Linked DNA regions of Homo sapiens: regions 2 and 3 are each linked to region 1. The links come from fine-mapping of genetic effects on gene expression. A gene starts in region 1. Each other region holds a variant in brackets. All regions are shown on one strand. Distances are from middle to middle.

Evidence for each region.
Region 2: its variant is fine-mapped to the expression of SLC1A1 in T cells (TOPMed, PIP above 0.99). The same link has a PIP of 0.9 or more in blood mononuclear cells.
Region 3: its variant is fine-mapped to the expression of SLC1A1 in blood mononuclear cells (TOPMed, PIP 0.95).

Annotation. Positions count from the first base shown.
Region 1 is chr9:4,486,307-4,494,489 of GRCh38, reverse strand. SLC1A1 (solute carrier family 1 member 1) reads right to left here and starts at 4,022. Exons shown (of 12, transcript NM_004170.6): 1 at 3,720-4,022. The coding sequence starts at 3,810. It also overlaps a transcript of GLIS3 not described here. RefSeq lists silencers at 3,795-4,224, 7,670-7,759 and an enhancer at 4,375-4,424.
Region 2 is chr9:4,595,886-4,604,069 of GRCh38, reverse strand. SPATA6L (spermatogenesis associated 6 like) reads left to right here. Exons shown (of 12, transcript NM_001353486.2): 12 at 3,261-5,754. Among named protein-coding and RNA genes, the nearest start is that of PLPP6, 62 kb to the left of the region's middle. The variant A/G (reference allele first, on the strand shown) is at 3,529.
Region 3 is chr9:4,608,430-4,616,613 of GRCh38, reverse strand. All of the region lies in intron 9 of SPATA6L (spermatogenesis associated 6 like), which reads left to right. Among named protein-coding and RNA genes, the nearest start is that of PLPP6, 50 kb to the left of the region's middle. The variant C/T (reference allele first, on the strand shown) is at 4,892.

The DNA of each region.
Region 1 (8,183 bases):
ATAGGCGGGACACTAAGCAGGACACAGAAAGAGACATACTATGAGAGAATTTATTTCATAAGAAAATATTAATTTTCTCATAATCAAATTATTCAGATTTACCTTAAAATAACAACTATTGAGTGCTGAATATATGCCAGCCACACAACTGAGTATCTTTCACACCTCTAATAACAAACGAAGTAATAAGTAATATCTCCAATTTCCAGATGAGGAAATTGAGGCTTGTAGGGAAATACACAGTTTGCCTGCATGATAGAGCTTGATAGTACCAGAATTCAAATCCCAAGGACTCTTCACTCCAGGCTCTGTGCTCATTCTACCATTCTATGGAAGCAGAGAATAAGCCTATAAGAATTGTAATGAAAGCCGTGAAAGTGTTTCTAGTGGTATTTTAGCAGAGGATTTTCCTGTGAAAATCCAAGATACTATTTTCAGGACCATGTAGGGTGTCGCAGAAATTTAAAAAGATGGTCACCTAACTATTGAATCCCTTCATCTTGTGAACAAGAATTTGAGAAATGTTTAGTTCTTAGCATTTCCTTGTCCATGAAAAGAGTGAACTTCCACACCTAATAAAGATGACCCTTATTACATTTCCCCTCATGTGCTGTATCTTGAAAAATCAGGCTTTAAGCTGGCTCATAAAAATCTTTGCCTCTTATTTCTATAATCAAATATTTCAAAGTATTAGGGCTACTGAATTATAGTAGTGACTGAACATTTCATTGCATTATTATTTCTTTAAATTATTTTTTTTAGAAATAGAGATGAGATCAGGCTGGTCTCAAACTCCTGAACTCACTCATTCCTCCTACCTTGGCCTTCCAAAGTCCTAGGATTACAAGTCTGAGCCACTGCACCTGGTCAGGGACCAAACATTTGAACGGCTATAATCAGAAGAAGATGTTTTGTCATGATAGTTAATAAATTTCACAGTTTTTTTTCTTCTTTAAGTTCCACATGCTGAAAAGTCCAAAAGGGAGGCTGCATTAGAGCTCTTGCGATTTTTCTGGATCAGTTAAGGCAGTTATAAAATAAGCTCTTACTATCATTATCTAGCAAGGGTTTATGAATAGACTCAGTGCCACTGTTATAAGTCACTGGAATTTCACTGTCAATTAAACAAATCAGCCCTTACAGACTACACAAACAAGTATGAGTTTCCACTCAGGCCCAGTACTCTGAAGAAAAAGGACAAGAAAAGGACCCCTGTTAATGGGCATATCGGGGGTGGTCTAGGTTTGAGACTTCTCAGACCAGAAGCAGGACTGCCCTTTGTTGCCATCTGAAGGAACAAATATCTAGGAAGATTTCAGCTGGGCACTTGATTTTTAAGTGGTGACTTTCCTTTCTGGAGAAAAGTACTCAAACTAAGCTCTTGGGGCTCACAGACATTAAAATTGGAGGAAAGTGCCCATCTGAGACCAAAGGCCATGTCTGCAAAATGAGCATGTACTTCTTCTTATTCACGCAACTGATTCCAAAGGCCAGGGAACAATTGCTTAAAACCTTCTCCAAACCAGTCTCCAGTGAATCGCATGCTGACGAGTGGTGTGCAACACTTGGGTAGCAAGTGAGTATCTCTGGAGAGCCCCATGCTGAAAAGGCAGGATAACTCCACTTCCACAGGGAATCAGGAGGGAGACTCAAGCCAATGTTTATCCTGCAAAGTCTTTTTTTTTTTTCTTTTTAGACAAGGTCTCATTCTTGTTGCCCAGGCTGGAGTGCAGAGTCACGATCACGGCTCACTGCAGCCTCGACCTCCCTGGGCTCAGGTGATCCTCCCACCTCAGTCTCCTGAGTAGCTAGGACTACAGATGTGCACCACCACGCTAATTTTTGTACTTTTTTGTAGAGATGGCATTTTGCCATGTTGCCCAGGCTGGTCTCCAACTCCTGGGCTCAAGCAATCCTCCTTCCTTGGCCTCCCAAAATATTGGGATTATAGGTGTGAGTCACCGTGCCTGGCCCTCTAAAAGTCCTTTTCCTTTTTTTTTTTTTTTTTTTGGTGGATTCTTGCTCTGTCACCCAGGCGGGAGTGCAGTGGCACAATCTTGGCTGACTTCAACCTCTGCCTTCTGGGTTCAAGCAATTCTCCTGCCTCAGCCTCCCGAGTAACTGGGGTTATAGGCATGAGCCACCTTGCCCTGGCATCTCTCAGTCTTCAAAAAGAGATTTAACAATTAATCCTCGACTCTTATCACTAGGAAAACAAACAAGGCCATCTCTTCTCTTTGGCCTAAAGGAAATCAAGTCGTTCTTTGTAGCGTATGCTATTTAAATATGGTAGAGTAGGATAAACTTTCCCTTAAAAATGTTCAAAACCGAAAAAAAAAAGTTCCAAAACCACTTGGCACTTCTTGGGGGAAATAGTCAAGATTTGCTTCTGTACTTCTCTCCTTTCCTCCTACAAATAGCCTCTGCTAGGGCCATTCCAGGATGTTATTTATTTACTAGAAACCTGACTTTCCTTTCCCCAAGGTTCTGGAGAATCCAATCTGACCCCAAGAATCCCATTAACTTCCAAAGGCCATTTCCATGCCCTATCCCCACCCTGAGGGGAGGGGGCGGTTCGGAGGAGAAGCAAGCAACACCATATATTCTGAGATTTAGGAGCAGCAGTTGGAGAGGAAGGTACCTGAGGTTGGGAGGAAACAAGCTGTCCCCACTTGCCTTTTCAGCAAACACAGCTGCAGTTTCCAAGGGGAAGGTGGAGCCTGCCGAGGAATCCACATTCCTCAGAGGGTGCAACAGCCCTCACCTGCTGAGGAGCTATCACTGGGAAGGCGACAGATATGGCGCTAATCCCAAGGAAGTGCATCCCCGGGCCGGAGCTAGAAACACACAACCTTGGTAAAAAATCAGAATCTAAATAGGAATAACTCATACCTCTGAGCAATGGCTCAGACATCCACCTGGTCCAGTGATCTGTGAGGGGTGGATCACTTAAATACACCCTTGTTTAAAAACAGGCAAGGATGGCTTAAACATTATCTTAAATACAAAAACAACGTGGAGAGCAAGGAAGGCAGGAGAAGAGACGGCTGAGTTCTCTTAGCTCTCTTCCCCGGTGACCTCCCGCGGGCCACAGTGGCACATCCCAGAATTCAGGCACGAATCTGGCAGCTTTTCAGAGCCCGGGTGCAGGCAGTCGGCGCTCGCCGCGTGGGAAGGCACCTTTCCACGCACTGCCCAGGATGAGCGGCGACAGCGTTCTCAGCCTCCCTCCCCTAAGGGTCCGGCCCATCCCGGAGGCCAGGGTGCCTCTTCCAATTCGACTGAGAACTGTAATCCACACTCAATCTCTGCCCGCGCAGCGAGGCTGGGGGTGTGGGGTGAGGAAGGTGGCGGTGATAGGGGGAGATACGGTGCGGGATTAACAAAGAAAAAAATCGAACCCTGTTTTCAAACGAGCAGAACCAAGAGCTACTTGCTTCCCTTTCTACCCCCAAGCCCCTTTGATCATTTTGGGTAGAGCAGGAACCAGCAGCTCAAGGAGCACTCAAATGGGAGTCCCAGAGGAGCTTTGTTCTTGGTGTGCAGTAATTAGAGCGCTTGGGGGAAAGCCCCCGCAGGGGGCCCGAGGCTAAGGCCGAGGGGGCATCGAGGGACCCTGCATGGAGTGCGCCAGCGCCAAGCCCACCCTCAGCCGCACGCGGCCTGGGCGCAGAGAGCGCGTGAGGGTGCGCGCATCGCCCACCCGCCGCGCCGCTCACCTAGCACCACCGCGGCCACGGTGGACAGCAACACCCAGTTATTCTTCAGGAAGCGCTTCCACTCGCATCCTTTCCTCGCCGGTTTCCCCATGGCTGTCGCCGCTATTGTGCGCTGGGCTCGGCCGTGCGCGCGTGGGCTGGGCGACCCGGGGACTGCTGGCTGCTCGGCGGCGCGGCGAGATGCGGGTGCACAGGGGAGAGGTGAGAGCCGGCCGCTGCAGTCGCCGCCGTCACCACCGCCGTTGCCGCCGCCACCCGGGATCGCGCACCGCGCCCGCCGCCCTGCCAGCCCGGTAGTTTTGCGTGGCAGGCGCGCCCGGCTCCTCCTGCTGCCGCCGCGCTCTGCGGCGCCTGGGCCAACCAGCGAGGAAGGAGGGAGGAGCGGCAGGCCCGGGAAGGAGGGTGGGTGCGTGCGTGGGACGCCCGGGGTCCCTAGGGAGCAGGCGTGGTAGGGCGCCCAGCGCTGCGGCAGGAGCTGGGGCGGCCTCTCCGGGAACCCTGAGTCCCGCCCCACAGCCTTCCACTGGAGTCTGTCTCGCTTTCCACGCCTCACTCATGCTAGGGCTTTGGGTTAAGGGTTTTCTTCTGTCCCTAACCCAGAGAGGCGGAGCCACTGCCCTCCTGGGCGCGGACTTCATCCTGCACGTCTCCCTCTCCGTTCTCCACACCAGCTATTTCCAGCGCCGGCACCTGCAGAACGGGTGCCCTTTCAAGTCGGGGGAAGCTGATCCTGCCTTGGGTCCCTCTTGCTCGGCTACTCAGGCTGGGATGTGCCAGCAGCCGCGAAAGCCTGAAGCTTCTGGGAGGAGAGAAAGGAGTCCTGGGGCAGAACATGGCTTTGGAAACTTTCACGCGGAGCCTCCAGTGCCCCCACAGGGATTATTCTCCTCTTCGAGTCGCTGGAGGTGATTTGTCTGTGGACACTGGGCTTGGGAGTGTTCCCTGCACAAGGAGATGGTGATTTCTCTTAGAACTTTACTTCTGCTCCTTGGGACTTGCTCTGTGACCACAGGCCCTGGAGCATGGAGGCTTGGGGCAGTGATTAGAACTGAGAACCGGACCCGGGAGCCGCTCTGGGGAGAAAGTGGGCGGTCCATCCCCTAAGGTCCAACGGATTGGAAAGGCAAACACAGGAGAAACTAGGTTAGTGGTGCCAAATATATTTGGTGTTGCTAAGTGAATTTCTGATGCTCTTCCATTTTTCTACCCAATTTTTTCACTCTCACGTATACAATCTCTTTCCCTCCCTTTACCAAATCAGTACCTCCGCAGCTGTAAGCGGTCTTCTTATCAGCGTTCCTAAAGTTAAGTGAGCCTGGAACCCTTTTTGCTATTGTAGAATCTACTCTGATTGTGGGTAGGGAGAATTTCCCCTACTAGATTTTCTGATGACTAAATCCCCACAATTAGAGCTTCATCCCTTTGGTGTAAATTGATACAAGCATCTTTTAAGCGATAATAGATTAAGATTTACAACCCTGTAGACTTTAGTATGAATGAGTTTATCAGCTCTTTATAGAAAGTAAACTTTGAGAGAAAGAAGGTTAGAGGGATTTTAAGGTCGTTGGGTGTCCGAGGAAGATCTGAAGAAATGTCAGAAGGGGACCCGGGTGCGGTGGCTCTTGCCTGTAATCTCAGGACTTTGGGAGTCCGAGGCGAGCGGATCACGAGGTCAGGAGATTGAGACCATCCTGGCTAACACAGTGAAACCCCGTCTCTGCTAAAAATACAAAAAAATTAGCCGGGCGTGGTGGCACGTGCCTGTAGTCGCAGCTACTTGGGAGGCTGAGGGAGGAGAATCGCTTGAACCTGGAAGGTGGAGATTGCAGTAAGCTGAGATCAAGCCACTGCGCTCCAGCCTAGGCGACAGAGCGAGACTGTCAAAAAAAAAGAAAAAAGAAAGAAAGAAGGAAGGAAATGTCAGAAGGGAAACTATCAAGAAAGGGAGAATAGTCCCGGGCGCGATGGCTCACACCTGTAATTCCAGCAATTTGGGAGGCCAAGGCAGGCGGATCACTTGAGGTCAAGAGTTCGAGACCAGCCTGGCCAACATGGGGAAATCCCGTCTACCAAAAATACAAAAATTAGCCGGGTTTAGGGCCATGCACCTGTAATCCCAGCTATTCGGGAGGCTGAGACAGGAGAATCACTTGAACCCAGGAGGTGGAGGTTGCGGTGAGCCGAGATCACGCTGCAGCACTCCTGCCTGGGCGACCGGAGGGAAACCCTGTCTCATAAAAAAAAAAGAGAGAGAGCGTGCGCGAGAGAACAGATTTGTCCCACAGTAAAAAAACAGCTGGAAAAAACGCAAATGTCCAACATAAATGGAATGGTAAATATATTATGGAACTGCCAAGCAACAGTACCTTATGCAGCCTACATAAAGGAAGTTTATGAAGTTTTTAACAGCATGGGATGGCACATGTTATAAATCTATATTTATAAATATAAAGGGAAGAAAGAAATACTAAAATTGCATGTACAATTTGATCACATGTGTGTAAAATAAACATATTGGCCAGGTGCAGTGGCTCACACCCGTAATCCCAGCACTTTGGGAAGCCGAGATGGTAGGACTGCTTAAGCCCAGGAGTTTAGGACCAGCCTGGACAACATAATTAGACCACTGTCTCTACAAAAACTAAACCGACCAACCAACCAACAAACAGACGAAATAAAACCATGTGCTTAGAAAAAAAGACCAGAAGAAATATGCCAAAATTTTAACAATGGTCATCTTTGCCTTCTATCTTTTATATTTCCAAAGTGTCTACCATAGAGCTGGGCGTGTTGGCTCACAATTATATTCCCAGCAGTTTGGGAGGCTGAGGCAGAAGGATCACTTGAGGCTAGGAGTTTGAGACCAACCTGGGCAACTTAGTGAAATCTTGATTCTACAAAACTTAATAATAATAATAATCTGGCCATGATGGCACATGCCTGTAGTCTCTGCTACTTGGGAGGCTGAGGCAAGAGGATAGTTTGAGCCCGGGAGTTCGAGGTTGCAGGGAGCTATAATTGTACCACTGTACTCCAGCCTGGGTGACAGAGCGAGACTCTATCTATTTAAAAAAAAAAAAAAGTGTTGACCATAAGCATACCCATGCTCATTACAGTTGTAGATAGGGCAGTATTTACAAAATAAACATTCCTGAGGGGAGAAAAAAGTGGAAGCATCTGAGGAACTATGTGTACATCACAACTTTCTGGGTTGTAATAAGACAATTACACTAGGGTTCTCGGGGTAAAGTATTTAGGCTTAAATCCCAGCACCACCACTTATCAGCTTGGTGACCTTGGGCACCTGGCTTAAATTTTTTATGTCTCAGTTTCTTCATCTGTAAAATGGGGGCATTAATTATCTTTACCTCATGGAGGTATTTTAATAATTTAATACAATAATCTGTGTGAAAGGCTTAGAACACTCCCTGGCACAAAACAAATATCACCACCAATTTTACTTGGAGTCAACCTGGACAGGCATCTCTTAACACCATCTTTTAACACCTGCCTGTCATTAACACACTCTGAACCCCTTCAGACCCACGAGAACTCTTGCTCATTGATCATCAGGAATTGCCCATCTCTACTAAAAATACAAAAATTAGCCAGGCGTGGTGGCGGGTGCCTGTAATCCCAGCTACTCGAGAGGCTGAGGCAGGAGAATCGCTTGAACCCAGTAGGTGGAGAATATGACAAAAGAAATATGTCAAAATTTTAACAATGGTCTTCTTTGCCTTCTACTTTTTGCATTTCCAAAGTGTCTACCATAGAGCCGGGAGTGTCGACTCACACCTATATTCCCAGCACTTTGGGAGGCTGAGGCAGAAGTATCACTTGAAGCCAGGAGTTTGAGACCAACCTGGGCAACTTAGTGAAATCTTGGCTCTACAAAACTTAAAAAAATAAATAAATAACCTGGGCATGATGGCACATGCCTGTAGTCCTCACTACTTGGGAGGCTGAGGCAAGAGGATGGCTTGAGCCCAGGAGTTTGAGGTTGCAGGGAGCTATGATTGCACCACTGCACTCCAGCCTGGGTGACAAGAGGCCTTACATCACCCATTGCACTTTCACACTGGGAGGACCAAGGCCCTTGGTCCCCTGAAGGTTTGCTTCAAAATCACTGACAGGCAGATTTATTAATAGGAGAAAAGGCATACCAATGTATTGAACGTATACACACGGGAGACTTCAAAATGAAGACCTAGCCTCCCAATGAGGTCCAGAAGTTTATATACTATCTGGAGGTTACAGAAAGAATGGGGGCTTGAATCCTGGTAAAACAGGTTTTGGGAGGTGAAGAGAAGAGGAATTGCTGAGGGGATTACTAGGGAGAATGAATGGATCTCTGAACAGAGATTAATGTGTGAATAGTTCTCTTTGATAGTGAAAGTGTTCAGGTGTGGTTACATTCTTGGTCTTACAGGGAGGGGAAGAACAAGCAATTACTTTCTTTGATGG
Region 2 (8,184 bases), 110 kb before region 1:
AGGAGACTTGGAGGAGACCTGAGAACTGCGTTCTTCCCTTGCTCTGTATGATAACTGCAGTGCACGTGCCTTCCAGCTCTCTTGCTTCCTCTTGTAATCATCTCCCCTGCCCGCAACATCACCCTTTATCTAATAGACTTTCCGGCCTTCTTTCAGCTTCTTGAACACGGAGCTTTTTCCTGCCATGGGGTCTCTGCACATGTTGTTTTCTCCATCTGGAATATGTCTTCCTGACTCTGCCTGGATAACTTCTATTTGTCCTTCCAGGCTTATGATTTTCTATGACACGACACTCCCTCTCTCTGTGATGTGTACCCTTTAGTACACAGCATTTTTCCTTCATAAATTATGACACAATTTCTTATTATATTTTTATCTGGGCTGATTGTTTAAAATCTGTCTCTTCTACTGGAGTGAAACCTTATGAGATCAGAGAATCTGTCTCTGTTGTTCACTGCTTTATACGCAGTATTTAGTGCCATACAATGGAATCACATTTAACTTTGCAAACACATGTACTAGGTGTGTGCACTGAACAAGAACCTGCCTACCCATCTCCACCCTGCTGCTGTCTCTGTATCACCTGACCCTCCACAATGGTTGCTGCTCAGTAAAGAGGGTTTTTTTTGTTTTTGTTTTTGTTTTGACATGGAGCTCTGTCACCCAGGCTAGAGTGCAATGGCGCAATCTTGGTTCACTGCAACCTCCACCCCCCAGGTTCAAGTGATTCTCCTGCCTCAGCCTCCTGAGTAGCTGGGATTACAGGTGTGCACAACCACACCCAGCTAATTTTTGTATTTTTAGTAGAGATGGGGTTTCACCATGTTGGTCAGCCTGGTCTCAAACTCCTGACCTCGTGATCTGCCTGCCTCAGCCTCCCAAAGTGCTGGTATTACAGGCGTGAGCCACCGTGCCCGGTCGCAGTAAAGAGTTTTTATAAATGCATGTTGAATATGCATTGATTATGAATGCATGTAACAAGGCAACTCTAGAATTCAGATCTGTGGCAAGTAGTTAGCCACATTGTGGGACATCATCGTTTCTCATATATTCTTTTCTTTTCCATTCAAGCCCAGAATAATAATCGCTCTTCCTTATGACATGCGGCCTGAGTGCTGAGACTAGTACACATACTTCACATGTATTAAACAAATTCATATCTAATTCTCAGGACAACCCAATGAGATAGGTACTATCATTAGTTCCATCTTACAGATAGGAAAACTGAGGCATAGGTTAGGTCCCTTGCTCAAGGTGACATGGCTAGTGAATGGTGGAGCTTTATTCTCTTAACCACTACATTCTATTGCATTTTCAAAGCTAGAGTGTAATCTTACATGGAAATCCATGTCTCCCCATGTGTGAAGGAGGGCCCTTTGGAACCCAAGCAGAGTTCGTGGGCATTGGCCTTTGGAAGGCTCCCACTAGGATCCTATAGCTTTGTCCTGTATAGTCCTCATGTCAGCAGGATCAGAATAATTATGCGTCTTTCTAAACAATAAAGGAGTGTGGGATGACCTGCTAAGTTTTCACTGTAGTCAGGCTCCTGAAAGTCTGTTTTGAGGGTCATGCATGCTTTACAGAACAAGTTGGCTTGCCTTAGGAATGGCCAGGGCTCCCCACCTTTAGCACAGAGGAATGTGCAGGACAGCTCAGTAATGGCCCATTCTGGAGGCTTCTACCTTAGAACGTTCTGCTTGCTAGATTAAAGGACGGATTCTGGGCCATTTACTCTCTGGTTACCAAAATAATTGCCGTCTAGGCAATTATTTAGGTGGTTATACGGAACATAGCCCACATGATTATCAAATGCCAAATTACATTGAATTTCAACATGGGTAATATCAAGTTACATAGAGCCCTGAACCAGCTGATATGTGGACATTGATGTGGGGGGATAGAGAGAAGGTAAGAAAAGAAAAAAAAAAAACGTCAATTCTTTCTTGGAAAATAGGTTTCCCACACAACAGGAATTCCCACCCAGTAGTTTGGCATACGCTTAGAATACCTTCTCTGGAAGTCTCCATACCATCCTCCCTGACCCCGCTTCTTGAGTCATGGATTCCTGGAGAGGCTGGGATCCTGGAGGGTCATTTTAGTGAAGCTTTAGTGATTGTGAAAAACCCAAGTGACTCTGGCTAGTCTTAAGCAAACGGGGCATTTATTTGAAAGATGCTGAGCATCCATCTCAGTGAGTCCAGGAAAGATCCAAACAGGCAAGATCAAATAGCTAGAACAGGACAGCCAGAGCCACTCCTGTGGGTTGGGAGGACAGACCCCAGGCAGGAGGCATCCCCCACACACAACCCAGTGGCTCCCACTACGTGTCCCAGTCCCGGCTTTTCTTGAGGACTCTCTTCTAATGGCAGCACCAATTCCTGTCCCTCCCCTTCTCCATATCTGTTTCACTGCCAGGTCCTGGCTCCCCAGCGATCTCGAGATCTCAGGGAGATGAAAAAGTAGATTCTTACCACAAAAAGGTCAGGGATTCTTGAGCCAAAAACAATGAGTCCCATTGTCTGACCACGTAGAGGGAGAGAATGGGTGGAAGAAATGGGTTGAAGGGGTTGGAATACATCTATTTCTGGATCTTTTGGGACTTGGTACTTTTGGTATAAACAGAGTATCCCTTGTATATTTAAAATTGGTGAATTTTACCACACAAAAACCAAACATCCAAAAAACCAAACAAAAAAAAAAACCTCCCGTAAAGAAACCCCTCAGATTATCCCTAGTTCTCTTGGAAGGCATAATTGCCGTGAAATCCCGGCCCCCAGTGTGCAGTGCCAAATTACAGAGCAAGACTCCATCAAAAAGAAAGGAAAGAAAGGAAGAAAGAAGGGAGTGAGGGAGGGAAGGAAGGAAGGGAGGAAGGAGGGAAGGGAAGGAAGGAAGGAAATTTGTTCAGTAGAATATAGTTAATTGGAACACGTTTAACAGCTCAACTGAATAACACCTATTTTGGCACATTTACTATGTAGCAATGCTAACTCTTCACTATAATAGTAAGAGGTAGATACTCTGTCATCATCCTGATATTTTACAAAGACGTCAAGTAAATTGTCCAAGGTCACACAGATGCTCACTGGGTTATTCTGTTGTGGGAATCTGGGGAAAAAGCTCAGAGACTAAGTGATCCCAAGGCATAGCTACATGCCAAGATTGGGGTAGTATGACATTATCTTTTTCTCCTTACTTGTATTGATTGTTTGCCTTTTTCTCAATACCACATGTAGAATGTGATGTTTCAAATTTTGCAGGGGAAATTAATGAAAGCTTAAGGAGAATCATGAAGAGCTCACTCACTGAGACAATTGAAGCATCCTTAAAGAAATGAACACTTTTTGTTGTCTGTGTTGAGTCACTGATGTCTAATCCCCTTTAAACCAAACCCTGTACTCAGTCTTTTGTGCCCAGGTAAGAGTTGTTGATTAAAGTGTTTGCTGTTTGGGGGCTAACATTTTCTTGTCAAGCTGGAAAATTTGTGTTTTTGCATGTTTGTTTTGAACATGAAAGAGAAAGCGCTGT[A/G]GTTGGGTGGCAGGTGCTTATCTGAACACTTCCCCTCTCTCTCTCTCTGGCTCTCTCTGGCTCTCTCTGTCTCTCTCTCTCAAATTAATTATATATGAGCTAGAGGAAGTTGCTATTCACAGGAATAACCTGATAAATCCTCCAGGAAAGACTATCAACCTGACTTTCTCTTTTCGGTAGATCCGTTTTTGTTGTTGTTTGTTTATTTCTTAGTGTTAGGCTTGATTTACGTGAAGTCCACTAAAAACCTTGGAAAAGAGAGCATTACGTCTGGGTAGTTCAGATCTTGTTTTAGATGTTGAATGTCTGTGATAAATTTGTAAGAGGAGGCTGGCTCCTCTGGAGCGTAGTTTAAACTGCTCCTTCTGTTTCCTACTCCTTCGTTCCAGCAATTCTTTGTAAATTTAGATGAGGAACAAAACCTTCCTCAAATATTTCTCCAAAAGAACTACACATTAAGTAAATAGGTTCTACAGATAGGACTGCCAATGCCAGGTTTTAAAGTTAGTTAGGAAGGTGCATCTATGAAATGCTTACACAGTGTGAGGGAGCAGGAATAGGAAGGGGCTGGGATAAAGGGAGACTAGAGGCACATTTGTCTTCATTGATACAGACCCAGAGAAGAGGGGCCTGAAAATGGAAACTTATTTCCCTCCTTCATAGTGTAAGCATAGCATTTTCCTCTACCAGCCCTACTATAGTGTGAATGTTTGTGTCCCCTCAACATTTGTATGTTGAAATCCTAACCTCTAAGGAAATGGGGCCTTTTGGGAGGTGATGAGGTTGTGAGGGTGGACCCCTCATAAATGAGATTAGTGCCCTATAAATAGGCTCAAGGGAGCTCGTTTGCCCCTTCCACTGGCGAGGAGACAGCGAGAAGGCGCCATCTCTGACCCAGGAAGAGGGCCCTCACCAGATTCTGCATCTGCCAACATTCTGATCTTGGACTTCCCAGCTTCCAGAACTGTGAGAAATGAATTCCTGTAGTTTGTAAGCTACCCAGTTTATGACATTTTGTTATAGCAGCCTGAATAGAGTAAGACACTACCCTAAAACTTGTTCAGTTTTTAGAAGATTCAGTGAGAGCCAAGTTTTCTTTTCTCACTGTAATCATAGGGATTGGTTCATTAGGTAAATTAAGAAAATGAAATTAAAAATTAAAACAGAAAAGGAACTCCAAAAACAAAAACAACAAAACAAAATTCATTTATCCTCTTCTTAGAATTTCAGCCAAATAAAGGTATATCCAAGTTGAACCTCCCAATCTAAAAATCTGAAATCTGAAATGCTCCAAAATCCAAAACTTTTTGAGCACCAATATAACACCATAAGTGAAAAATTCCACATCTGACTGCATGTGGCAGGGTGCAGTCAAATGCATTCGAAACTTTGTTTCATGCTCCAAATTATTTAAAATCATGTATAAAATTACCTTCAGGCTACCTGTATAAAGTGTATATAAAACGTAAATGAATTTCGTGTTTAGACTTGGGTCCTATCCCCTATCCTGAAGATACTTCATTGTGTTTATGTAAATATTCCAAAATACAAAAACAAAAACCAAAACCCAAGTTTAAAATACTTCTGGTCAGTCCCAAGCACTGAAGATAAGGGAGACTCAACCTGTATCACAACCAGCATTCCACCTTGGCAAGGCCAACAGCAAGCTTAAATTACATATGCTAATATGTTCTCAGTCTCTCTGAAACTATGGTTGTCAATTTGTTGTTTTGATGTTACCTCTAAGTAGTCATCAAAAGTAAGAAAATATTGTGTTACATTAAGGTTACGCTATAAGTCTCAGGAGAGGGCTGCTTACGTAAGCAGCTAAAGGAAAGCAGCACTAATGAATTGGTATCCCATTTCAGTTATTGTTAAAATATACACCATGACATTCAATATTCAGTGTTTTTTGAAATGGTTTAAGCATAACTCTTTAATAAGATCTTAAATGCCCATTCTTATTTAAAGTCATTTTTGGTTTTCACACTAAATTACGCTTTTTTTCCCTTTACTTTTGCATCTATTAACTCTATTCCTTAAATTATTATTATTTTTACTTTTGTTTCTCAAGGAGTTATCTCAATTTTGAGGAATCATGCTGGGGCAAGGATTGCAGTTGAAGTATTTTGCTTTTGGAGTGTATAATAGTATGAATAATTTTGTGATGTTTTGGGGTTTGGATTACTTTGGGAAGATCTGTGTCATTAAACATCATAAAAAGAATTCCCATCTGTCTTGCTTCAGTTTATAATTCCTTTCTTGATTTTTATGGTTGCAGATCTGTCAAAGCCTGGAGCATATTTTATGGGCATGTTTCATGGGGTCTTGGTTTGCAGAGGCTCCTAAGAAAATCTCCTTTGTGGAACCTAGGCCCTCCAAACAAAAGCTGCTGTACAATGAGGCCAGTTCTCTGTGGTCACCTGACTGACCCAAAGTTAGCTGAAGCCTGTAGGCCATGAATTATAAAAGAGATTTTTAAAAAATGAGAGTGCAAATGATATGTTTGACATAAAAGAGGTGGCGGGTTTTAGGTGTAATTTGAGAAGACTGATGGGTATGTGTGTGAGTTCAGCCCTAGCACCCAAATGCCAGGCTACTCTCAGTATAGCCAGTACTCCCCTGAGTTGGTCCATCAAAGGAGCCCGCTGGGCTCTCTGGAGGGCAGCCTGAGGAACAGGATATGCTCTGTAGTCCATGCTGTGACCAGAGAACCCACTAGTACCACCGGATGGGACTGCTGTCTTTCTCTGGTTAGGGGACCCCTCCTAGCACTACTTAGCGGACCTGCAGGTCTTAGGGAGACCTCTTCTCTCTTCCCTTGTGCTGGGAACCCTGCCAACAGTGATGAGAGCCCCAACCCTTTGCTCCTTTGGCCTGGGAGCCCCATCCTCCACACTGAATCTAGGGGCACCAAATTATGGCAATGAAGTTACTTTGTTTATCAAAGGAAAGAACCTATGCTTAATTTCACATAGGGAATTTGGTCAAAACAGGGTCATGTCTAGGACAGGAGCTTTTACATGGTGCAGATGGGTCCTTTTCTTGATGGCTGAGTTGATGGAGCTTCTTCAACAAAATGAGGAGTTTCTAGTCCAAAATTTTTCCTTGGGATTCTGCGTCTTTTAGAGTGATCCATTAGCTCCGCCCACCTCACCCCCCACGCCCCACCGTGTGTGTGTGTGTGTGTGTGTGTGTGTGTGTGTGTGTGTGTGTGTGTGTATTTTGTTTTCTTTTTTTATATATATAAAAAATAGAGAAGGAGTCTCCCTATATTGACCAGGCTGGTCTTGAACTCCTGGCCTCAAGTGATCTGCCGCCTCGGCCTCCCAAAATGCTAGGCTTACAGGTATGAGCCACTGCGCCCCTCCGAGTACCTGGATTTAAATCCTAGTTCTGCCATTTACAGGCTGAGTGCCTTGGACAGATAATTTAACCTCTTTGTGTCTCAATGTCCTTATGTATAATATGGAGGTAATAATAGTATCTGTCTAATAATGTTATTGTTGGTAGATAATACATTTAAAGTACATTAAATCAGTGCCTGGCACAAAATGAGCACTCAGTGAGCATTAGCTATTCTTATTCTCATCTCATTTAATTTTTTGAGGAAAGCATTGCTCCCCCTATTTCTTGCTAAGGACACTGAGGCTCAGAAAAGCAAGCGTCAGAGCCAGTTTGCAAACCCTGCTCTGTCTTGTTTCCAAACCTCAGGTTCTCTGTACCACTTCCTGTCACCCCTTTGCTGCCACCTGGTTGGCCCTGAGGCATCACAGATAATTCAACTTAAAGGGTTTGAAAAACATGAACTCAGAACATTTCAGAATAACAGAGCAACTAAGGTCTCTTGACAGAAGTTGGAACAATTAACCACTTCTTGTTTAGGCCAACAAGAGAGGCTTTCTGCTCGTATTTCCTGTCATTGAAATGTTATGTTTGTAAACGGCATTTTTAGGAAGTCCCCTCCTCCCCACCACCCCCAAATAAACTTTCCTGTTCCTTTTTCTCCAGGAACGGACACTCACTGAAATTGGAATTTTGAACTGAGATAAACATCATACTTGTTTTATTGGGATGACTTCCAGGAACAGACCGTAGGCAGTGGCAGTAGGTGTTATTGCTGGAAGCGTTGCATTCATGGTGGGAACTCTTCATTATGAAAGCTCATTTGTTGTTGCTTAAGGGATAGGATGACGTCCTTTGTTCACTGGGTCTCCTCCCAGCCCTGCAGTTAACAAAATTGATCCCACAGCCTCGCATGGACCCACTCAACTTGTATTTGTTAAACTCCTTCTGTGTGCTCAGTATTGCGCAGGACCCTGTGGGGTCGGGAGGGGTCACACTAAGGGGTGTAAAATTCAACCCGTGCCCTCTTGAAGTTTCCATACTTACTGGGGCAATGAGACCTTAAACGAGATATTTCAAGTGTGATTCCCAAAAGGTGTTGCAAACTCGGATGTCTTTAGGACCAGGCAGGATTTGTGACTGTCAGAAGCAGTTGAGTTTGAAATAATGGTGAGTGATGGGAGCTGGAGTGAAGTGGAGCATGTAACACCCCATCCTCCCACAAGGTGTTCATCTTCAAATTCAAATCTAAACCAGCCAAAGGCTCTGTGGCCCACATAAAGCTGGTCTGAAGCTGGGTCTTGCCCAAAG
Region 3 (8,184 bases), 120 kb before region 1:
AATTCCGTTTAAAACAAACAAACAAACAAAAAACTGGCTCTGGCACACAGAGACAAGTGGTCAGAGACACACTTACACCTCTCTATGCCTGGCCTCTGTCCCCTCCTGTCTTATGCTTTTGCCACCAGCCTGGAATTCAGCAGGCTGGCAAAGCACAGGAGGTCATCCTGGATTTAAAGACTTGTAGAGGATTGATTTTAAATGAAGAACGGAAAGAACTTTCAATTAACAGTGGTCAGGAGACATGGGCTCTAGCGCTCATGTGTCTCTAAGTGCTGGGTGATTTCACACAGCTACTCCACCTATTTTTTTAAATTAATTATTATTATTTTTTTTCGAGATGGGGTCTTGCTTTGTCACCCAGGCTGGAGTGCAGTGGCACAATCACAGCTTACTGCAGCCTTGACCTCCCCAACCCAAGCAATCCTCCTGCCTCAGCCTCCTGAGTAACTGGGACTGCAGGTGCGCACCGGCATGCCCGGCTAATTTTCATATTTTTATTTTTGTAAAGATGGGGTCTCACTGTGTTGCCCAGGCTCTTCTCAAACTCCTGGGCTCAAGCAATTGTCTTGGCCTCCCAAAGTGCTGGGTACAGGCATGAGCCACCGTGCCTGGCTTCAACCTTTTAAACCTCAGTTTCCTCATCTTTAAAATGGGTTTGATGATCAAAGATCCATCTGCATACAGCCACAAAGTGCTTCTCAGCCACCAGAACTGGGGAAAACCCGTGGTTTTTGTCTCTGTGCCTGGTATCTATAACACCTCCCAAACTCCTTAAAAGCAGTACAGCAAGCTTTTCTGAGAGACTGTATTGAGCATGCTGTTATTGGGCAACTGTTGGGGGCAATGGACACCATCATGACATGTCTCTGCTTTCCACTGGCTCACATACTAGACAGGAAGGCAGACATACCCCCTTGTCACTGAATATGAGATAGATTGTGGTAGGTACCTAACAGAAGTACAATCCAAATGCAGGGGAGAGACAGAGTGAGAGGAAATCAGTTACATCAGGAGAGAGACCTGAGAAGTCCTCTTTTCTCTTTAAATATGTGTTAGATGGTTTATGCATTCATTCAGCCAGCCTTTCCTGAGTGTCTTTATGCAGCAGGCCAGCAATTCTCAACTCTGGCCAACGGAAGAATTGCCTCATGTTTACTGAGTCAAAATCAACTGGGATTGGAATTGAGTATGTGGGCGGGGAGCACGTTAAATCTGTGGTTAAGACGGAAAGCAGGAATGATACTCAATCTGCTAGGCCAGCAATGGGAACACTAACATTTAAGACATTTCTCCTGATCTCTGAAAACTTGCAACCTAGCAGAGGATATAAAAAAAATAATAAAAAAGAAGTATGCAAAGAGCTTTCTACAAAGCAGCACTTTGTGAATAGTGTGGAACAAAAGTTACTGGAGTATAAAGAAGAAGGGTGGTACTTCTGGAATGTTTCATGGAGGAGGTGATGCTTTCATGTGGCCTTGAGGAGAGAAGATTGGTTTATGATGGGGTTCATAGAGGTGAGTGATGGCAGGTGGGAGGCAGGGGCACTGTCAGCTTCCAGCAGTTAGAGGAGTTTGGGAGAAAGTCAGTGCCAGGACTCAAAGGTTTGAGGGGGACCTTTGTTGGCTGACCTAAGGAGCTTGGGCTTTGCTTGGAAGGAGTGAGGAGCTCTGTGACATTAGTCACAGGAGTTGGCACAAGTGACTTTAGAAAGATGAGTCTTAGCTGCAGACCAGAGTTTTATTGGCCATCTCTGATGAGGCAGCAAATTCTTTGTGCCCAAAGTCTCTCTAAACTGGTAACTTGGGACCTAGTTGGACTATGAGTTTGTAAATAAGGCCATGATTATCAGCGGCAAATAATAACACAGCCACAGAAAGGCCATCCAGTTTGCCCATGGCTGTCCTGGTTTCAGTACCAAAAGTTTGCATCCTGGGAAACCCCTGAGTCCCAGGTAAACCAAGACAGCTGGTCACCTTCACACTAGAGAAGTGGCTCTGAAGATAATATTTTAAAAACAGTTCTTTTGAATGAGGGATGTGCCCTTCATATCCTTGCAGAACACATTGCCCGTTGGCTTTAGAGCGATCACTAGGGCAGATTCCTGGGACACTGGGGGTTGTCAGCACTGTGTCTCCACTCACTCAGTGTTCTTTTCATACCAGCAATATCAGGACCACTCTTTCTCTGTGTCCAGTTCACAAGGGTGCATGAGAATCCCTGTTGCTTTTCTGCTAACTTAATACTGAAGTCAGTAAGGATCAAGGTCATAAGGATGAGTTGGGAGACAAATTTTGGAATGAGAGTCAACCCAAGGTTTTAATGGACAAGGTAGAAAACACATTATAAGAGTGAACAATGGGAGTACTAAAGGAGGGAGAAACACTGCCAAGCCTGTTCCCTGTATCCACCATCTGAATAGCGTCATGCCCCTTCAGCACATCCTCTCTCTCCACATGACTCGAGGAGAAGGTAGATCCCATGGAGAAGGCTGTGGTAAAGGCACAGCGCTGCTCCCATCTGTTGACTCATCATTCTCTGAGATCTTCAAATGTAAAATAAATTGCATGTAACAATAATGGTAACAAATGAAAGAGTCGCTTTGGTATTGGTTACTCTAGACCTATGAAAAAGAATTTACAGTATCTAGCTGGTGGCTGTTTTTAAATGCTAGCTTCATTTATAGCTTCAACATATTTCTATTCCTTCCTCCTAAACATTCTTAGAGAAGGGCCAAGCGTGGTGGCTCACACCTGGAATCCCTGCACTTTGGGAAGCGAGGTGGGTGGATCACTTGAGGTCAGGAATTCAAGACCAGCCTGGCCAACAAGGCAAAACCCCGTCTCTACGAAAAATACAAAAATTCGCTGGGCTTGGTGGCTTATACCTGTAGTCTCAGCTACTTGGGAGGTTGAGGCAGGAGAATTGCTTGAACATAGGAGGCAGAGGTTGCAGTGAGCGGAGGTAGCGCCACTGCACTCCAGCATGGGCAACAGAATGAGACTCTGGGTCAAAAAAAAAAAGTTCTTAGAGAAGAATAGAAATAATGTTTGTAGTCTTAAACATGGGCAGTGCTTTAGGTGGTGCTTCCATTTACTATGAGTTGTTTTCTTGGGTTGGCAATGGATTTGTGTAGATCCATTCATACTGTTGGTCTTATCTCCCTGGAAAAACCAGTGGGACATGCTTGTCACAGAGAGAGCTGGAGTGGAGGCCTGGATGTGGGCCGGAACCAGCCAAGCAGAGGGGCAACTGCACAGGGAGGTCATTCATATGGTAGCCATAGTAACAACTGGATTTCCAGATGTTCCTGTCATTTCCAGTGTTTACCATACATTAATTAAAGAGAATCATTTTCTTTCTTTCTTTCTTTCTTTTTTTTTTTTGAGATAGAATCTTGCTATGTTACCCAGGCTGGAGTACAGTGGCCCCATCTCAGCTCACTACAACCTCCACCTCCCAGGTTCAAGCAATTTTCATGCCTCAGCCTCCTGGTATCTGGGACTACAGATGTACCACCACCACACCTGGCTAATTTTTTGTATTTTAGTAGAGATGGGGTTTCACTACTTTAGCCAGGCTGGTCTGGAACTCTTGGCCTCAAGAGATCCGCCCGCCTCAGCCTTCCAAAGTGCTGGGATTATAGGTGTGAGCCACTGCGCCTGGCCCCAAGTGGCTATAATTCTTTGGGTGTTTTTAGAAAACTGTATCTGTGCCTTTCATTATCAAATTGCTATGTACACTTTCAGCTTAGTTATACCTCAGACTTTAGGATTTGGTAACCATCCCCCTCCTGAATATTAATGGATGGATGAATGAATGAATGAATGAACGAGAGAATGAATTCAATCACTCAAGAAATATTTATTAGCTACTTACTGTGCTATTCAGTTCCTACTCTGCCCTGGGATGAGCTATTAAACAAAGAGTCTCAGCTCAATTTCACTCTAGGAGTAAAGACCGCCATTAACCAAATAATGACAAAATGTCCAGTGGTGCAAATGGTATTAATGAGGTATAGATAAATGAAACTGCAAGTCCGTATAACAGAGCAGCTGACCTCCTCTACAGGAGAGGGCTCAGAAAGGACTTTGCTGAGAACTCAACAATTGAACTGAACTCTGAAGGGTGGGTAGGAGTTAATAAGAGTAGTGAGCCCCTGGGGTTGGGAGGTAGAAGAGAGAACAGTGTTGCCAAATGCCTATGGAAGGTAGAAAATGCTCTATGTTTGGGGAACTGAAAGAGACTGTCAAACCTATGGTTCAGTTTGGAGTCTGGGTGGCCTAAAGTAAATGAGATATAAGATAAAGTCCTGGTGGTAGGAAACAACCAGGATTGGAGGCTGGGTGTAGTGGCTCACACCTGTAATCCCAGCACTTTGGGAGGCTGAGGCAGGAGGATCACTGAGTACAAAAGTTTGAGACCAGCCTGGACAGCATGGGGAGACCCTGTCTCTACAAAATATTTGAAAGTGAGCTCTGCATGGTGGTGCATACCTGTAGTCCCAGCTCTTTGGGAGATTGAGGTGGAAGGATCCCTTGAGCCCAGGAGTTCGAGACCAGCCTGGGTAGCAAGACCCTATCTCTTAAGGAAAAAAAAAAATAGCCAGGCATGGCAACATGTACCTAGTTGGTCCTCTCTACCTGGGAGGCTGAAGTTGGAGGATTGCTTGAGTCCAAGAGTTCAAGGTTGCAGTGAGCTATGATCATGCAGTTGTACGTTAGCCTGGGTGATAATCTCTCCGTGAAACAACAACTACTGGGATTAAATTTTATATTAAAATTTTTTGGATTAAAAATTTTTTTTTCTTTTATTATTATACTTTAAGTTTTAGGGTACATGTGCACATTGTGCAGGTTAGTTACATATGTATACATGTGCCACGCTGGTG[C/T]GCTGCACCCACTAACTCGTCATCTAGCATTAGGTGTATCTCCCACTGCTATCCCTCCCCCCTCCCCCCACCCCACAACAGTCCCCAGAGTGTGATGTTCCCCTTCCTGTGTCCATGTGATCTCATTGTTCAATTCCCACCTATGAGTGAGAATATGCGGTGTTTGGTTTTTTGTTCTTGCGATAGTTTACTGAGAATGGTGATTTCCAATTTCATCCGTGTCCCTACAAAGGACATGAACTCATCATTTTTTATGGCTGCATAGTATTCCGTGGTATATATGTGCCACATTTTCTTAATCCAGTCTATCATTCTTGGACATTTGGGTTGGTTCCGAGTCTTTGCTATTGTGAGTAGTGCCGCAATAAACATAGGTGTGCATGTGTCTTTATAGCAGCATGATTTATAGTCCTTTGGGTATATACCCAGTAATGGGATGGCTGGGTCAAATGGTATTTCTAGTTCTAGATCCCTGAGGAATCGCCACACTGACTTCCACAATGGTTGAACTAGTTTACAGTCCCACCAACAGTGTAAAAGTGTTCCTATTTCTCCACATCCTCTCTAGCACCTGTTGTTTCCTGACTTTTTAATGATTGCCATTCTAACTGGTGTGAGATGGTATCTCAATGTGGTTTTGATTTGCATTTCTCTGATGGCCAGTGATGATGAGCATTTTTTCATGTGTTTTTTGGCTGCATAAATGTCTTCTTTTGAGAAGTGTCTGTTCATGTCCTTTGCCCACTTTTTGATGGGGTTGTTTGTTTTTTTCTTGTAAATTTGTTTGAGTTCATTGTAGATTCTGGATATTAGCCCTTTGTCAGATGAGTAGGTTGCAAAAATTTTCTCCCATTTTGTAGGTTGCCTGTTCACTCTGATGGTAGTTTCTTTTGCTGTGCAGAAGCTGTTTAGTTGAATTAGATCCCATTTGTCAATTTTGGCTTTTGTTGCCATTGCTTTTGGTGTTTTAGACATGAAGTCCTTGCCCATGCCTATGTCCTGAATGGTATTGCCTAGGTTTTCTTCTAGGGTTTTTATGGTTTTAGGTCTAACATTTAATTCTTTAATCCATCTGGAATTGATTTTTGTATAAGGTGTAAGGAAGGGATCCAGTTTCAGCTTTCTACATATGGCTAGCCAGTTTTCCCAGCACCATTTATTAAATAGGGAATCCTTTCCCCATTGCTTGTTTTTCTCAGGTTTGTCAAAGATCAGATAGTTGTAGATATGCGGCATTATTTCTGAGGGCTCTGTTCTGTTCCATTGATCTATATCTCTGTTTTGGTACCAGTACCATGCTGTTTTGGTTACTGTAGCCTTGTAGTATAGTTTGAAGTCAGGTAGTGTGATGCCTCCAGCTTTGTTCTTTTGGCTTAGGATTGACTTGGCGATGCGGGCTGTTTTTTGGTTCCATATGAACTTTAAAGTAGTTTTTTCCAATTCTGTGAAGAAAGTCATTGGTAGCTTGATGGGGATGGCATTGAATCTGTAAATTACCTTGGGCAGTATGGCCATTTTCACGATATTGAGTCTTCCTACCCATGAGCATGGAATGTTCTTCCATTTGTTTGTATCCTCTTTTATTTCATTGAGCAGTGGTTTATACTTCTCCTTGAAGAGGTCCTTCACATCCCTTGTAAGTTGGATTCCTAGGTATTTTATTCTCTTTGAAGCAATTGTGAATGGGAGTTCACTCATGATTTGGCTCTCTGTTTGTCTGTTGTTGGTGTATAAGAATACTTGTGATTTTTGTACATTGATTTTGTATCCTGAGACTTTGCTGAAGTTGCTTATCAGCTTAAGGAGATTTTGGGCTGAGACAATGGGGTTTTCTGCACACACAATCATGTCGTCTGCAAACAGGGACAATTTGACTTCTTCTTTTCCCAATTGAATACCCTTTATTTCCTTCTCCTGCCTAATTGCCCTGGCCAGAACTTCCAACACTATGTTGAATAGGAGTGGTGAGAGAGGGCATCCCTGTCTTGTGCCAGTTTTCAAAGGGAATGCTTCCAGTTTTTGCCCATTCAGTATGATATTGGCTTTGGGTTTGTCACAGATAGCTCTTATTATTTTGAAATACGTCCCATCAATACCTAATTTATTGAGAGTTTTTAGCATGAAGTGTTGTTGAATTTTGTCAAAGGCCTTTTCTGCATCTATTGAGATAATCATGTGGTTTTTGTCTTTGGTTCTGTTTATATGCTGGATTACATTTATTGATTTGCGTATATTGAACTAGCCTTGCATCCCAGGGATGAAGCCCACTTGATCATGGTGGTTAAGCTTTTTGATGTGCTGCTGGATTCGTTTTGCCAGTATTTTTTGGGGAATTTTGCATCAATGTTCATCAAGGATATTGGTCTAAAATTCTCTTTTTTGGTTGTGTCTCTGCCAGGCTTTGGTATCAGAATGATGCTGGCCTCATAAAATGAGTTAGGGAGGATTCCCTCTTTTTCTATTGATTGGAATAGTTTCAGAAGGAATGGTACCAGTTCCTCCTTGTACCTCTGGTAGAATTCGGCTGTGAATCCATCTGGTCGTGGACTCTTTTTGGTTGGTAAGCTATTGATTATTGCCACAATTTCAGATCCTGTTATTGGTCTATTCAGAGATTCAACTTCTTCCTGGTTTAGTCTTGGGAGAGCGTATGTGTCGAGGAATTTATCCATTTCTTCTAGATTTTGTAGTTTATTTGCGTAGAGGTGTTTGTAGTATTCTCTGATGGTAGTTTGTATTTCTGTGGGATCGGTGGTGATATCCCCTTTATCATTTTATATTGCGTCTATTTGATTCTTCTCTCTTTTTTTCTTTATTAGTCTTGCTAGTGGTCTATCTATTTTGTTGATCCTTTCAAAAAACCAGATCCTGGATTCATTAATTTTTTGAAGGGTTTTTTGTGTCTCTATTTCCTTCAGTTCTGCTCTGATTTTAGTTATTTCTTGCCTTCTGCTAGCTTTTGGATGTGTTTGCTCTTGCTTTTCTAGTTCTTTTAATTGTGATGTTAGAGTGTCAATTTTGGATCTTTCCTGCTTTCTCTTGTGGGCATTTAGTGCTATAAATTTCCCTCTACACACTGCTTTGAATGTATCCCAGAGATTCTGGTATGTTGTGTCTTTGTTCTCGTTGGTTTCAAAGAACATCTTTATTTCTGCCTTCATTTCGTTATGTACCCAGTAGTCATTCAGGAGCAGGTTGTTCAGTTTCCATGTAGTTGAGTGGTTTTGAGTGAGATTCTTAATCCTGAGTTCTAGTTTGATTGCACTGTGGTCTGAGAGATAGTTTGTTATAAT